Homo sapiens: one gene and its partner. The protein of the gene in region 1 interacts with the protein of each later gene in a biochemical or structural test. Each region holds a gene or a part of one and is shown in the gene's direction. Other genes may lie near its edges.

Region 1 (7,000 bases):
GCCTTGGCCTCCCAAAGTGCTGGGATTGCAGTTTCATAGAGTTTAATTATGATACCCATAATGAGATATTTCATAATAATTTGTGAACTGGCCCTTTACTAGTATAAGATTGTTGCACATTTATTAGGCATCTTCCATAATTGGACAGATCACAGATTGAGGGGCTTGATCTACAAAATAATTTTCTAGGCTAATGGTCTTGTCCTTTTACAGATGAGGGAGTCTAGTCTCAAAGAATTAAATGCTTGCTCCAGAAGGGCAAAGTCTGGATTCACACCTGAGTCATTTGACCACGAAGCCCCTGTTTTTTCCACCAGAACAGTTTGCCTTGGTTTCAGTTCACTTGGTGGACTGTTTAAACCGGCAAAACTGGTATTATGTCAAAGAATGTAATTCAAGGTTTGACAAAAGCATCCAGGAGTAGATATGATAGGCCGTGAATGTAGTTCTGGAACAAATTTAGAATCCTGTGTTTGTGTCTTCATTCTCAAGTTGACAGCCTTGAACACTGATGCTGCTGCTTTCTCATTTCTCGTATAGTTCTAGGACATTATATGTATTGTGCATGTATGTATGCTGTTAAACATATGTATGTGTTTAACTTTGATAGGTTTGTGAGAACTAGAATTAGATTGTAATGTTCCTGGTTGGGATAGAACTTTAAAATTTTCCTCTAATGAAAAAGATAATTATTTATGCAGTAGCTATCCTTTAAATATTACATAATTAATTCTCTAATCTTGAGAGGGGGGACTCGTTTTTAGATTATGATTAAATTGTCACTTAGAAACTATTAGTACAAATCTTTTCTATGGTCTGTGGAATATCCCTTGAGCCGCAATAGACATAAATGACAACAGTGAGCAAATAAGCCCATTTTTTCTGGTAACAAACTAGGAATCATGCATTTCAGCAGTAGGATGTAGTTGGGTAAATGAGCAGAAGCAAGGTAGGAAGGCTGAGTTGGGTGGCTACCATTACGGATTTTTTTCATTATTTGCTTTGAACTATTAGGAATTGTGCATCTCAAGGATATTCATATTCAACTGTAAATACAAAACCACCACCTAATATAAATTAGTAATATTACTAATATAAATTGGTAATAGATCTGTGACACACACATCAAGAAGTAGAGTTAAATAAGCTTAAGTTCTCTTTTGGAGGCATTATATCTATATGCATGTATCTATGATCTATATATGTGTGTGTGTGTGTATATATATATATATATATATATATGTTTTTTGGAGACAGAGTCTCATTCATGCCACATGCAGTGGCATGATCTCGGCTTACTGCAACCTCCATCTCCCAGGCTCAAGTGACACTCCCACCTCAGTCTCCGGAGTAGCTGGGACCACAGGTGTATGTCACCATGCCTGGCTAACTTTTTTGTGTTTCTGGTGGAGAGGGGTTTTGCCATGTTGCCCAGGCTGGTCTTGAACTCCTGAGCTCAGATAGTGTGCTGCCTCGGGCTCCCAAAGTACTGGGATTACAGGCATGAGCTACCGTGCCTTGCCGGCATTATATAATGTTCAGAGGAACCAGGATCTTTTCATTTAAAATGGTTCTGATTTTATTTGACAAATTTGAGTGGACTAGAATCTTTAAATATTTTGCAACGTCTTTCTAGTTACTGTTTTCAAAAATTAGCTTATTTTTCTTATTGATTAGTGTAAGAATGACATAATGGTTTGAGAAATGACCATAAGTCCACCAAAAGTTTTCCCTGTGAGTACTGAAGCATAAAAAGTAAAACCTAAAGAAGAAATCTGGCATCTTTAGAAATCTTGCTGGTGCTAAAGAGAGAGGAAATAATTTTTTATACAGAAGGCATGTCTCAAGTGAAACCAAAACACCAAAGCACATTCCTTCAGTGTATATTCACATGGGGTAAATATGATGCTGAGTAATGTGCACAAAGGAAACTCTTGACAAAAACACAGTCATCTTTTGAGTATGTTAGGTCATTTGTTATTTCATTTGAAAATAACCTGGCTGGGGCGTGGTGGCTCACACCTGTAATCACAGCATTTTGGGAGGCCAAGGTGGGTGGATCACCTGAGGTCAGGAGTTCAGACCAGCCTGGGCAATGTGGTGAAACCCCATCTCTACTAAAAATACAAAAATTAGCTGGGTGTGGTGGTGGGTGCCTGTAATCCCAGCTACTTGGGAGGCCAAGGCATGAGAATCACTTGAACCTGGCAGGTGGAAGTTGCAGTGCACTGAGATTGGGCCACTGCAGTCCAGCCTGGACGATTGAGTGAGACTCCGTCTCAAAAAAAAAAAAAAAAAAAAAAAAAAAGTAAGCCGCTGACTAACCTTTACAAGGTAATATATTTTCTGTGGCAGAATTTTTTGATTTCTGATCTATGTGGATGAACATCTTTTTCAACAGATATTTACTGAGGGCCCACTGTGTTTTAGATATGACAAGTGTGAACTGATTCCTCCCTGTGCTGGCATATCTTTGGATCCAGGAAATAGGAAGAGTTGCAGAGATATGAAAAAATAAATAGAAACCATCCATTTGAAATCCAAAGACATATACGTCAAAAGCTAATAACTTATATTTGGATGGCATTTTATTGCTTTAAAATATTTTTGTATGCATTTGGTCCTTAAAACAACTTGATGAAGTAGATTTAGTAAATTTATTCCTTTTCTACAGGTAAGGAAATGGAGACTCAAAAAATTAAAAATACTGGCTGCATGTGGTGGCTCATGCCGGTAATCCCAGCACTTTGGGAGGCTGAGGTTGGGAGGATCACTTTAGCCCAGGAGTTTGAGAACAGCCTGGGCAACATGGTGAAACCCTTTCACAAAAAATATTATACAAAAATTAGCTGGGTGTGGTGGTGCACGCCTATAGTGCTAGCTGTGTAGGAGGCTGAGGTTGGAGGATCTCCTGAGCCCAAGAGGTCAAGGCTGCAGTGAGCTGTGATTGCACCACTGCACTCCAGTCTGGGTGACAGAGCAAGATCCCGTCTCTAAATAAATAAATACATTACTTAAAATTAAGTAACTTGTTCAAGGTCAATGTGGCTACTTAGAAGCATCATCTCTGTGTAGTCCCAAAGTAGTAAGTCCTCCACTTTCCCCCTATTGCTTATGTATTTAACCTCACATTATGGCTTCAAGTCAGGTGGTTCAGGAAGTTCTGAAAAATTAGGGTCACTAAAATGGTGATTATTAAATTGTTACAGGTTATTTTTTAATGGAAGATAGAAGATGAGCATGATGCATCATTATGGAACTACTTTAACATTTTAAATAGATTGCTAGACTGAAATTGGTAATTAGCTTTTCTAGTTGGAGAATTTTTAAAGAACAATTAGTTAAAAAAAGGAAGGAGAAAAATGTTCTGGGGGAATTTTGAAAATAACTTTTATTACTTTGTGCATTGGTAGTGATCCGATAGTTACAACTGTCTTTGTAAAGACTCACTAAAGAACTGTGTGTGCGTCTGTGTTGGTTCCTTTATGTCTTCATTTATTTAAAACGTACTGTAGTGTCTACCACGGACCAGGCACTATTCTAAGTTCTAGGGATACAGTGATTAAATTAAGACCAAGCCCCTGTACTGACATTTTATTGTTGTTTTGAATTAAGTTAATTATAGACTCTTCATACTAGGATGTAATCAACAGGGCTGACCCTAAAGTTGGGAAATAGGCAGTTGTCAAAATTGTGCAATTTAAAGGCTACTGCATGACTTACTTGCTCTGGAATATTTCTGACCTATCTGTCGAAGACTCCCAGACTATTGGGTTATGGCGCTGTTACCAACCTGCTTTGATAAATATAAGTATGTTCCATCATTTATCACACTTTTAGCAAAGAAAACTGAGAGAAAATAAATGGGAACTAGAATTGGACACGGTGATGCTTACCTGTAGTCCTAGCTACTCAGGCGGCTGAGGCAGGAGGAATGCTTGAGCCCAGGTGTTTGAGGCCAGCCTAGGCAACATAGCCAGATTCTGTCTCAAAAAAAAAAAACAACAAGCAAGCAAAAAACAAATGGGACTAGGACTGATATGTTGGTGTTGTAAGAGAAGAGGTTAGCAAAGTATAATTTTAATAGCAGCTATTGTTTTTTCTTTTTTTTTGAGACGGAGTCTCGCTCTGTCACCCAGGCTGGAGTGCAGTGGTGCAATCTTGGCTCACTGCAACTTCCGCCTCTCGGGTTCAAGCGATTCCCCTGCCTCAGCCTCCTGAGTAGCCGGGATTACAGGTGCTCACGACCATGCCTGGCTAATTTTTGTATTTGTAGTAGAGGTGGGGTTTCACCATGTTGGCCAGGCTGGTCTCGAACTTCTGACTTCAGGTGATCTGCCCGCCTTCGCCTCCCAAACTGCTGAGATTACAGGCATGAGCCACTGTGCCTGGCCAATAGCAGCTATTGTTTATTGAGCTTTTACTACCATGTCAGATATTATGCCAAGTGAGTATTTTTGTATACATTAGCTCAATCACTGTGTCACCTCAGTGGTGCTGGTGTTATGACCTTCATTTTACAGATTAGGAAACTGAGGGGCAGAGATGTTAAATTTGCTCAAGCTTATTTGGTGGTGCTGGAATTTGGGTCTCTGCTAGTACTAAGCAGGTAGTAGATACTAATGTGGAAAGAGTACTTATGTGTGTTGTGTGTGTATATATATATATATATACACATATATATACACACCATATATAGTGTGTATATATGTGTATATATGTATACACACATATATAGTGTGTATATATGTATACACACATATATAGTGTGTATATATGTATACACACATATATAGTGTGTATATATGTGTATATATGTATACACACATATATAGTGTGTATATATATGTATACGCAATATGTATTGTGTATATATGTGTATATATGTATATACAAGAGTACTTATGTGTGTTGTGTGTGTGTATGTATATACACACATATATACACACATATATTGTGTATATATGTATATAGACATATATACATATACATATATAGACATACATACATATGTGTGTGTATATATGTATATAGACATATACACAATATATGTGTGTGTATGTATACACACACATATACATATAGAACATATATACATATACATATAGAACATCAGAAGTCTGTGTGTGTGTGTGTATATATATGTATACACATATATATACACACACACACATAGAGACAGACTTCTGATGTTCTGCTAGGATGTGTGACACATCACAGAGGTGGGCGACCTTGGTGTGGGAGTGATGGGTGTGGGGAGTCAGGATAGCTTGTTGGGTGAGGGGTGGGAATTGGGGTTGGAAGGAGATGGGAGGGTATTACTTGCCTAACTACTTGGTCGTCAGGCTTAATCCTCTCTCTGACAGCCCTGGGGTTCCAGAGTTGCGTTTAAGCACAGTGCTTTCTTGTCCAGCTCCTGGGTAAGAGGATAGGCAGACCTGAGGCAATCCTGGTTTTGTCACTCATTAACTTGGTCAAATTATTTCATTTCTCTAGGCTTCAGTTTTCTCATCTATAAAATGGAAGTAACAATATTACCTACCTGGTGTGGTTCTTATGAGGATTGAATTAGATAATAATACATGTAAAACACAGATCACACTGGCTAGCACATAGTGTACATTCATTATTATTGTTGTTACTGTGTTTTTTTTTGTCATGTTTAATGTGGAATTTTCATCGAAAAGCAAGAAGAGCAATATATTAGTGATTTGGTTGGAATCTTGAAGTTGGCTTTTTTTTTTTTTTTTTTTTTTTGAGATGGAGTCTCGTTCTGTTGCCCAGGCTGGAGTGCAGTAGCGCGATCTTGGCTCACCACACCTTCTGCCTCCCAGGTTCAAGCAATTCTCCTGCCTCAGCTTCCCGAGTAGCTGGGACTACAGGCACGTGCCACCATGCCCAGCCAATTTTTGTATTTTTAGTAGACACGGGGTTTCACTATGTTGGCAAGCTTCCCTTTTGATTTATGTGCAAACTGGAATTAGAGAACTACTAGCTTAAACTTTTTCTTTATCTTTTGGTTAGGGAGGGCTTCAACAAGATTAACGACAATTTGCTTGGGTTAACCAGGCAGTATGTGGTAGAGGGAAGTGAAATATGTTACCAGAATCTCTTCATTGACTTTTTTTTAAAGCTTATTTGGGGCTTATAGCATTGTATGGAGAAGACAATGCAGTGTTAAATTTCGCACCTAAATTAGATTGTAATGACTGTTTCAGCTTTTTGTTTGTTTGTTTGTTTGAGATGGAGTCTCGCTCTGTCACCCAGGCTGGAGTGCAGTGTTGCCATCTCAGCTCACTGCAAGCTCCGCCTCCTGGGTTCACGCCATTCTCCTGCCTCAGCCTCCCAAGTAGCTGGGACTACAGGCTCCCGCCACCACGCCCAGCTAATTTTTCTTATTTAGTAGAGATGGGGTTTCACTGTGTTAGCCAGGATGGTCTTGCTCTCCTGACCTCGTGATCTGCCCGACTCGGCCTCCCAGAGTGTTGGGATTACAGGCGTGAGCCACCGCGCCTGGCCTGTTTCAGCTTTTTAACTAGCTTCATTCGGAGGTGATTAGTTAATATTAGTTAAAATTGTTAATTTTTAACGATTATACAAATAGTAAAAATGTATAAATACATGTTTGTATAGATCTTTTTTTTTTTTTGAGATGTAGTCTCACCCTGTTGCCCACGCTGGAGTGCAGTGGCATGATCTCAGCTCACTGCAATCTCCCCCTCCCAGGTTCAAGCGATTCTAATGTCTCAGCCTCCTGAGTAGCTGGGATCACAGGCATGTGCCACCATGCCCGGCTAATTTTTATATTTTTAGTGGAGACGGGGTTTCACCATGTTGGCCAGGCTGGTCTCGAACTCCTGACCTCAGCTGAGCCACCCGCCTCAGTCTCCCAAAGTGCTGGGATTACAGGAGTGAGCCACAGCGCCCGGCCGTTTCTATAGATCCGGTCATTTCTATAGATCTTAAAAACTTTCAAAAACTTAGATTTCTTTAGATAATG
Region 2 (7,035 bases), on another chromosome or scaffold:
ACAGGAGCAGCCCCTACCCGAGCCAGTCCTCCCCGAGCAAAGTCCTGCTGCCCAGGATAGCTGCCTGGAAGCCAGAAAGAGCCAGCCAGATGAAAGTTGTCTGTCTGCTTTGCACAACTCCAGTGACCTGGAATTAAGAGCCACGCCGGAGCCAGCACAGACTGGTGTTCCCCAGCAGGTGCATCCCACGGAAGACGAGGCCAGCAGTCCCTGGAGTGTGCTGAATGCAGAACTTAGCAGCGGCGATGACTTCGAGACACAGGACGATCGCCCCTGCACCCTCGCTTCCACGGGGACCAACACGAACGAACTCCTTGCCTACACCAATTCTGCGCTGGACAAGTCCCTGTCCAGCCACTCCGAGGGCCCGAAGTTGAAGGAGCCGGACATCGAAGGGAAGTACCTGGGGAAACTCGGGGTGTCAGGGATGCTCGACCTCTCAGAGGACGGGATGGATGCAGACGAGGAGGACGAAAACAGCGACGACTCGGACGAGGACCTGCGGGCCTTCAACCTGCATAGCCTCAGCTCCGAGTCGGAGGACGAGACCGAGCACCCCGTGCCCATCATCCTCAGCAACGAGGACGGAAGGCACCTGCGGAGTCTGTTGAAGCCCACAGCGGCCAATGCCCCCGACCCACTGCCCGAGGACTGGAAGAAGGAAAAGAAGGCAGTCACGTTTTTCGATGATGTCACAGTCTACCTGTTTGACCAGGTATCTGTTCCCTCTAAATCATTTTCTATACACATCCATATAAGGATTCCAAAATGTGCTAGGAAATTGAGTGTGGTCTGTTTTCTAGTTGCCATTTTGAGGCAGCAGATTGTGATTACTCACAAAAAGTAATTTGGGGTTGGTTAGAGTTCTAAGAATATGCAGAAATGTCATTTGCTCAGGGAGTTCGTATTAAATTAAGAGAAAGAGACCCGAATGCTCTTCCTGGGTCTTCTAATGGAGTCTTCCTGAATTAGTCACCCTTTACACACCAAATTTTTACTGTTTTACTTTTTTATTTTTCTTTTGAGACAGCCTTGCTCTGTGGCCCAGGCTGGAATGCAGTGGTACAGTTGCAGCTCACTGCAGCCTTGAACTCCTGGGCTCAAGTGATCCTCCCACCTTCCATAATAGCTGGGCCCACAGGTTCATGCCACCATGGCTGGCTAAGGTTTTGGTGTTTTTTTTGTTTTGTTTTGTTTTTAATTTTTGTAGACACACGGTCTTGCTATGTTGCCTAGGCTGCTCTCAAACTCCTGGGCTCAAGCCATCCTCCCACCTCAGCCTCTCAAAGTTTTGGGATTACAGGCATGAGCCACTGCGCTTGGCCTCCAATTTTTAGAGCCTGACAATTGGCAGTAGGACCCACCACTTGGGTACAAGCCTGGAACCATGGCTGGCGTGCAGCCCTGGAGACAGCTCAGGAGAGGGGCCAACCAGAAGCCCTGCGGTGGGTGTCTGGAGGGTGTGACACACAGCAGGAGCGTCTGTGGTCCTTCTGCTCTGTCCCCTGACCTGTCCTCTTTCCCTGCTTTGGAGCAGGCAGCTTAGTGTGCACTGCTGAGTGGGCATGGATTTAGGCTCCTTTAAAAATGTAACAGCGGATAATTCAAGCATGCTTTAAAAAAAAAAAAAAAGTTCTTTTCATACTAGTCTTTGTAGCCCTTGAATTTGCTGCTTGCATCAGCTGGATTGTTGGGAGAGCTCAGTGGTGGGACATGAAAATGGGGTCCCCTCACCTTCTAGAAGGCGCAGGAGTCCTCGCCGTCTCCTTCACATTGCTTGCCCTCCCTTTTGCTCCATTCTGGGAACCCAGACCTTGGTCTCAGCCCCTGCGTGGCACCATCCCTCATGGGTCCGTGGCTATGGCGGGTCCAAGCACTGTTCCACCTCCTCCCCCAGGAGCTGCGTCTGTTGAACGTCACTTTATGCCTTGTTCCTCTGTGTTCTGTTCACTTTGGTTTTTATGATGTTTCTTTAAAAATCGTTAAATCACCCGCATTTGAGCTATAGCATATATGGCGGGGAAGTGGATGTTTAAAAAATGAAAAGTAAGGCCAGGCGCGGTGGCTTATGCCTGTAATCCCAGCACTTTGGGAGGCCAAGGTGGGCGGATCACCTGACGTCGGGAATTCAAGACCAGCCTGGGCAACATGGCGAAACCCCATCTCTACTAAAAATATAAAAATTAGCCAGTCACGGTAGGCAAGACTGCAGGCCCAGCTACTTGGGAGGCTGAGGCATGAGAATTGCTTGAACCTGGGAGGCAGAGGTTGCAGTGAGCCAAGATTGCACCACTGCACTCCAGCCTGGGTGACAGAGTGAGACCTGTCTCAGAAAAAAAAAAAAAAAAGCAGCCTCCTGAGCTCAGCCTGACCTCTTGAACCTGATTCTGCGAGGGGCCAGGAGGCCGTCTTTCTCTTTTCATTCCCCAGGTGGTTCCTAGGCAGATCTCGAACTCAGGAGCCTCTGAGCTCAGGGAGCCTGAGAAAACACGCTGCCGTTTTCTAGTAAGAGTGGAAGGGAGAAGGGATCACCTGGCCCCTCGGGTTTGTGTTTTGTTTTCAATGCATCCACATAGCCCTTTCTCCACCGTCTCTGTGAACTTGGATTATCGCTGCATTTCTCCATGGATGGGGTAATGTATAGGTGGGACGGAACTGTCAACTGTGCTCGGTGAGCAGTGCGGTTAGGAGCTAGGGAGCACGCTGTCCCCACTTCCTGAAAGCCTGGGGGTAGCTGGAGTAGTGAGAGGGACGCAGTCCCAGTGGAAGCAGCCTGTGGAGAAAACTCCCTGGGGCCGCAGAGTATGGGCCCCTTGCACAAGTCTTTGTGGAGGATGTTATGTTTTTCTGACTTTAGAAGACAGAATTGCAAAAGATGAAGATCTGTGACAAGGGCACTCTAGTTATGGGATGGAAGGTACAGAGATCAAATACCAGACATGCTTAATGGACGCGAGGCTTTGACAAGGAAGTTAGTGTCAAGGAGAAAGTCGGAAGGTGGGTCAGGGCCAGAAGAAAATGAGGAAGATCTTTCTGATGATCTGAAATTCGTTTGCTTATGCGTCTCATGCAGCATGCCTTGAAGCGACAGCCACCAAGCGTTCAGGCCGAGGACTGAGGGTTTCCTCCCACTCCTGCTTTCTTTTTTAATGAGCTGGTTTTGAAGTTGTGTAGTTTTTAAGCAGTTGAAGTATCTTGGCTCCAAACTTTTAACTGAGTGTTCATGGGATTGGGCAGCAATTGTTTCTTGGTTATATTACTATTTGTCAGTTCAGCAAATACTTAACCAGCACTTACCGTGTAAAGTAGTAAAGGCTGGTGAACAGTCTGTGGGTGCCAGCACCTTTATTATACATTGAGTCTTGTTTTGCTTCCCCATGTGGGGGTGGTTGTCACCATCTTCATGGAGAGGACCCTGAGGCTCAGAGTAGGTAAACTTTGCACAGGGTCTGGCCCCAGTGAGTAGCAGTGCTAGGGCTTGACCCAAGTCTCCTGGACCGAGCACAGAACTTTTCACCACTGAGCCCTGCCACCTCTTGCATGCACCTTTACAATCTGCAGCCTGGCATCGCATTCGACTTTTAGCACTTGCGATGTCCTTCCTCAGTGCACAGTGTTCTTGAGACAAAAGTAGCGGGTAATGATGCTTACTTGCAATTAGTGCGACAGGGTTCCCTCCAGCCTGATCCGTCATACTGTAAACAAGCACTGAAGGCTGGGCACAGTAGCTCATTCCCATAATCCTAACATTTTGGAAAGCTGAGGCAGGAGGATCGCTTAAGGCCAGGAGGTGAGACTGGTCTAGGCAGCATAATAAGAACCGATTTTTAAAAAATTGGCCAGTTGTGGTGGCCCGCACCTATAGTCTCACCTGCTCAGGAGGCTGAGGCAGGAGGATCGCTTAAACCCAGGAGTTTGAGAGTGCAGTGAGCTATGATTGTGTCACTGCACTGCAGCCGGGATGGCAGAGTGAGACCCTGTCTGAGAGGCTCCTGCTCTCCAGCTTTGAGGAATAAACATTCAGGGCTCCACCTAGGTTTTTTTGGTTGGTTTGGGTTTTGTTTGTTTGCTGGCACTGTCTTTGGTTTTGTTATCAGAGTAATTAATGCTGGTCTCATAAAATGAGTTGGGAAGTATTTCCTTCTCTGATAGTGTTTGGAAGAGATTATGTAGATTTGTTGATCTTTCCAAAAAATTGCTTTTGTTTTCATGGATTTTTTTTTCTTTTCTCTTTCGTTGATTTCTGCTTTGTCTTTATTATTTCCTTCCTTCTCCTTGCTTTGAATTTATTTTGCTTTTTCTAGAAAAGCTTAGAATTCGAGACCTTACTTCTTTTCTCCTTTTTTTTTTTTTTTGAGACGTCTCACTCTGTCGCCAGGTTGGAGGGCAGTGGCGTGATATCGGCTCACTGCAACCTCCGCCTCCCGCGTTCAAGCAATTCTCCTGCCTCCACCTCCTCAATAGCTGGGATTACAGGCGTGTGCCACCGCGCTTGGCTAATTTTTGTATTTTTAGTAGAGACGAGGTTTCACCATGTTGGCCAGGATGGTCTCAATCTCTTGACCTCATGATCTGCCCACCTCGGCCTCCCAGAGTGCTGGGATTACAGGCCTGAGCTACCGCGCCTGGCCTCTTTTCTCTTTTTTTGAGACTGGGTCTCGCTCTGTCGCCCAGGCTGTAGTAGTGCAGTAGTGCGATCTCTGCTCACTGCAGCCTCCACCTCCCAGGCTCAAGGGATTCTCCTGCCTCAGCCTCCTGAAGTAGCTGGGACCACAGGCGCCCACCACCGTGCCTGGCTAATTTTTGTATTTTTTGTTTCGTCATGTTGCCCAGGCTGGTCTCGAATTCCTGAGCTCAGGTGAATCTGCCTGCCTTGGCTTCCCGAAGTGCTGGGATTATAGACGTGAGCCACTGCACCTGGCCTCTTCTTTTCTAATAATTTAATGCTATAAATTTCCCTTTATGTACTACTTTAGCTGCACCCAGCAAATTTTAATGTGTGAGTTTTCGTTTTCATTCAGATCAAAAAGTTTTTTGTAAGACTTCCTCTTGGGAGCATAGATTAACAAGTATAGTTTAATATATTAGTTATAATTAATAATTACTAATAATTGGTTAATATAGTTTAATAAGTATATTGTTTAATTTCCAAGAGTTGGAGATTTTATTGTATCTTTTTGTTATTAAATTTTAGTCTAATTCCATTATGGGCAGAGAACATATTTAATATGGTTTCAATGCTTTTAAATTTGTTAAGGTTTATCTTAGAGCCAGGATATGGTCTTTCTTGGTGAATTATTCCATGTATACCTGAAAGAGTGTGTATTTTGGTTTTGGTGGGTGGATCGTTCTATAAATGTCAGATTTAATTTGTTGATGGTATTAGTTCTTCTCTGTCATTGCCGATTTTTCTGCATACTTGTTCTATTACTCAGAGAGAGGTTGTTGAAGTCTCCAGCTGTGATTTTTAGATTTGTCTATTTCTCTTTTCATTTCTGTTTATTTTCGCTTCCTGTATTTTGCAGCTCTGTTGATGCATATACATTGAGGATGATGATGTCTTCTTGCTGAATTGACCTTTTTATCCTTTCGTAATGTCCTTCTGTATTCCTTTGCCTTATATTCATAGAGCTGCTCCAGCTTTCTTTCTTTTTTCGGAGACAGTCTCACTTTGTCACCCAGGCTGGAGTGCAGTGGTATGATTTTGGCTCACTGCAGCCTTGAGCTCCTGGGCTCAAGCAGTCCTCCTGCCTCAGCCCCACAAGTAACTGGGACTACGGGTGCACACCACCACACACAGCTAATTTTTGTATTTTTTGTAGAGATGGGGTTTCACCATGTTGGCCAGGCTGGTCTCGAACTCCTGAGCTCAAGCAATCCGCCCGCCTCGGTCTTCGAAAGTGTTGGGATTACAGGCGTGAGCCACCGCTCCTGGCCACGTTGTTTTGGTTAATGTTTGCGTGGTGTATCTTTTGCATCCTTTTACTTTTAATCTACCTGTATCATTATATTTGACATGAGTTTCTTGCAGATCTTATAGTTAGATGGGGTTTTTAAAACTCTGTTCTGAAAAATCTGCCTTTTAATGGTATGTTTAGATCATTTACCTTTAATAAAATTATTGATATTTTGGATTTACGTATACCATTTTATTTGTTCTATTTTTATTTCTATTCTTCCTCTTTTTAATAAATTGAACATTTTTAGTATTACATTTTTCTTTTTCTTTTTTTTTACACTGTTCTCTTTGCGTAGTTTTTGTAGTGGTTGTTCTGGGGGTTACAATGTATGTATTAAACTTCTCACAATCTACTTAGAATCTGTATTTGCATATTTCAGATGGAATGTGGAAACCCTACTGTCACTTAGGCCTTTTGCCCTCCGTCCCCTTCTTGACATGCTCTTCTATGTTGCATACATGTACACTGATAACTCCTCAGACAGTGCAACACATTTGACTTTCTGTCATCAAACACATTCTAAGAAACTCAAGAGGAAATGAATAGTATTATACAGTTGGCCCTGGAGCAACATGGGTTTGAACTGTGTGAGTGTACTTATAACATGGCTTCTTTTCAACCCAAAACAGATCGAAAGCACAGTATTCTCGGGATGTAGAACCTGTGTATAGATACGGAGGGCTGACTTTTTGTATATGTGGGTTCCGCAAGGCTAACCACAGGACTTAGTATGCACAGGTGTGGTTATGCACGGGTGGTCTTGTCACTGATCTCTGTTCAGATCGTTTCTGGAGTTGTCCCTTGGTTTCCAAGAAGTGGTGGTTCCATAATTTGGATACCATAATTAGAGGCTGCCCAAGTGCTTTATATGAAATGGCATCATATTTGCATATAACCTACACACATCCTCCTGCAGACTTTCAGTCATCTCTAGATTACTTATAATGCCTCATACACTGTAAATGCTATGAAAATAGTTGTTATACTGTATTATTTATTTTGTTGTTGTTGTTGTTGTTGTTATACTGTTATTTCTTATTTGTGGTTGTTTCTGAATGTTTTCTGTCCTGGTTGG

What was found.
Region 2: the proteins of MYO6 (region 1) and LMTK2 form a complex in vitro, tested with the Homo sapiens proteins (one study listed by BioGRID).

Annotation. Positions count from the first base shown.
Region 1 is NC_000006.12:75,752,239-75,759,238, forward strand, and holds part of MYO6 (unconventional myosin-VI), read left to right. Parts: intron 1-7,000. UniProt on the Homo sapiens protein: Myosins are actin-based motor molecules with ATPase activity. Unconventional myosins serve in intracellular movements. Myosin 6 is a reverse-direction motor protein that moves towards the minus-end of actin filaments.
Region 2 is NC_000007.14:98,193,858-98,200,892, forward strand, and holds part of LMTK2 (serine/threonine-protein kinase LMTK2 precursor), read left to right. Parts: coding exon 1-715; intron 716-7,035. UniProt on the Homo sapiens protein: Phosphorylates PPP1C, phosphorylase b and CFTR.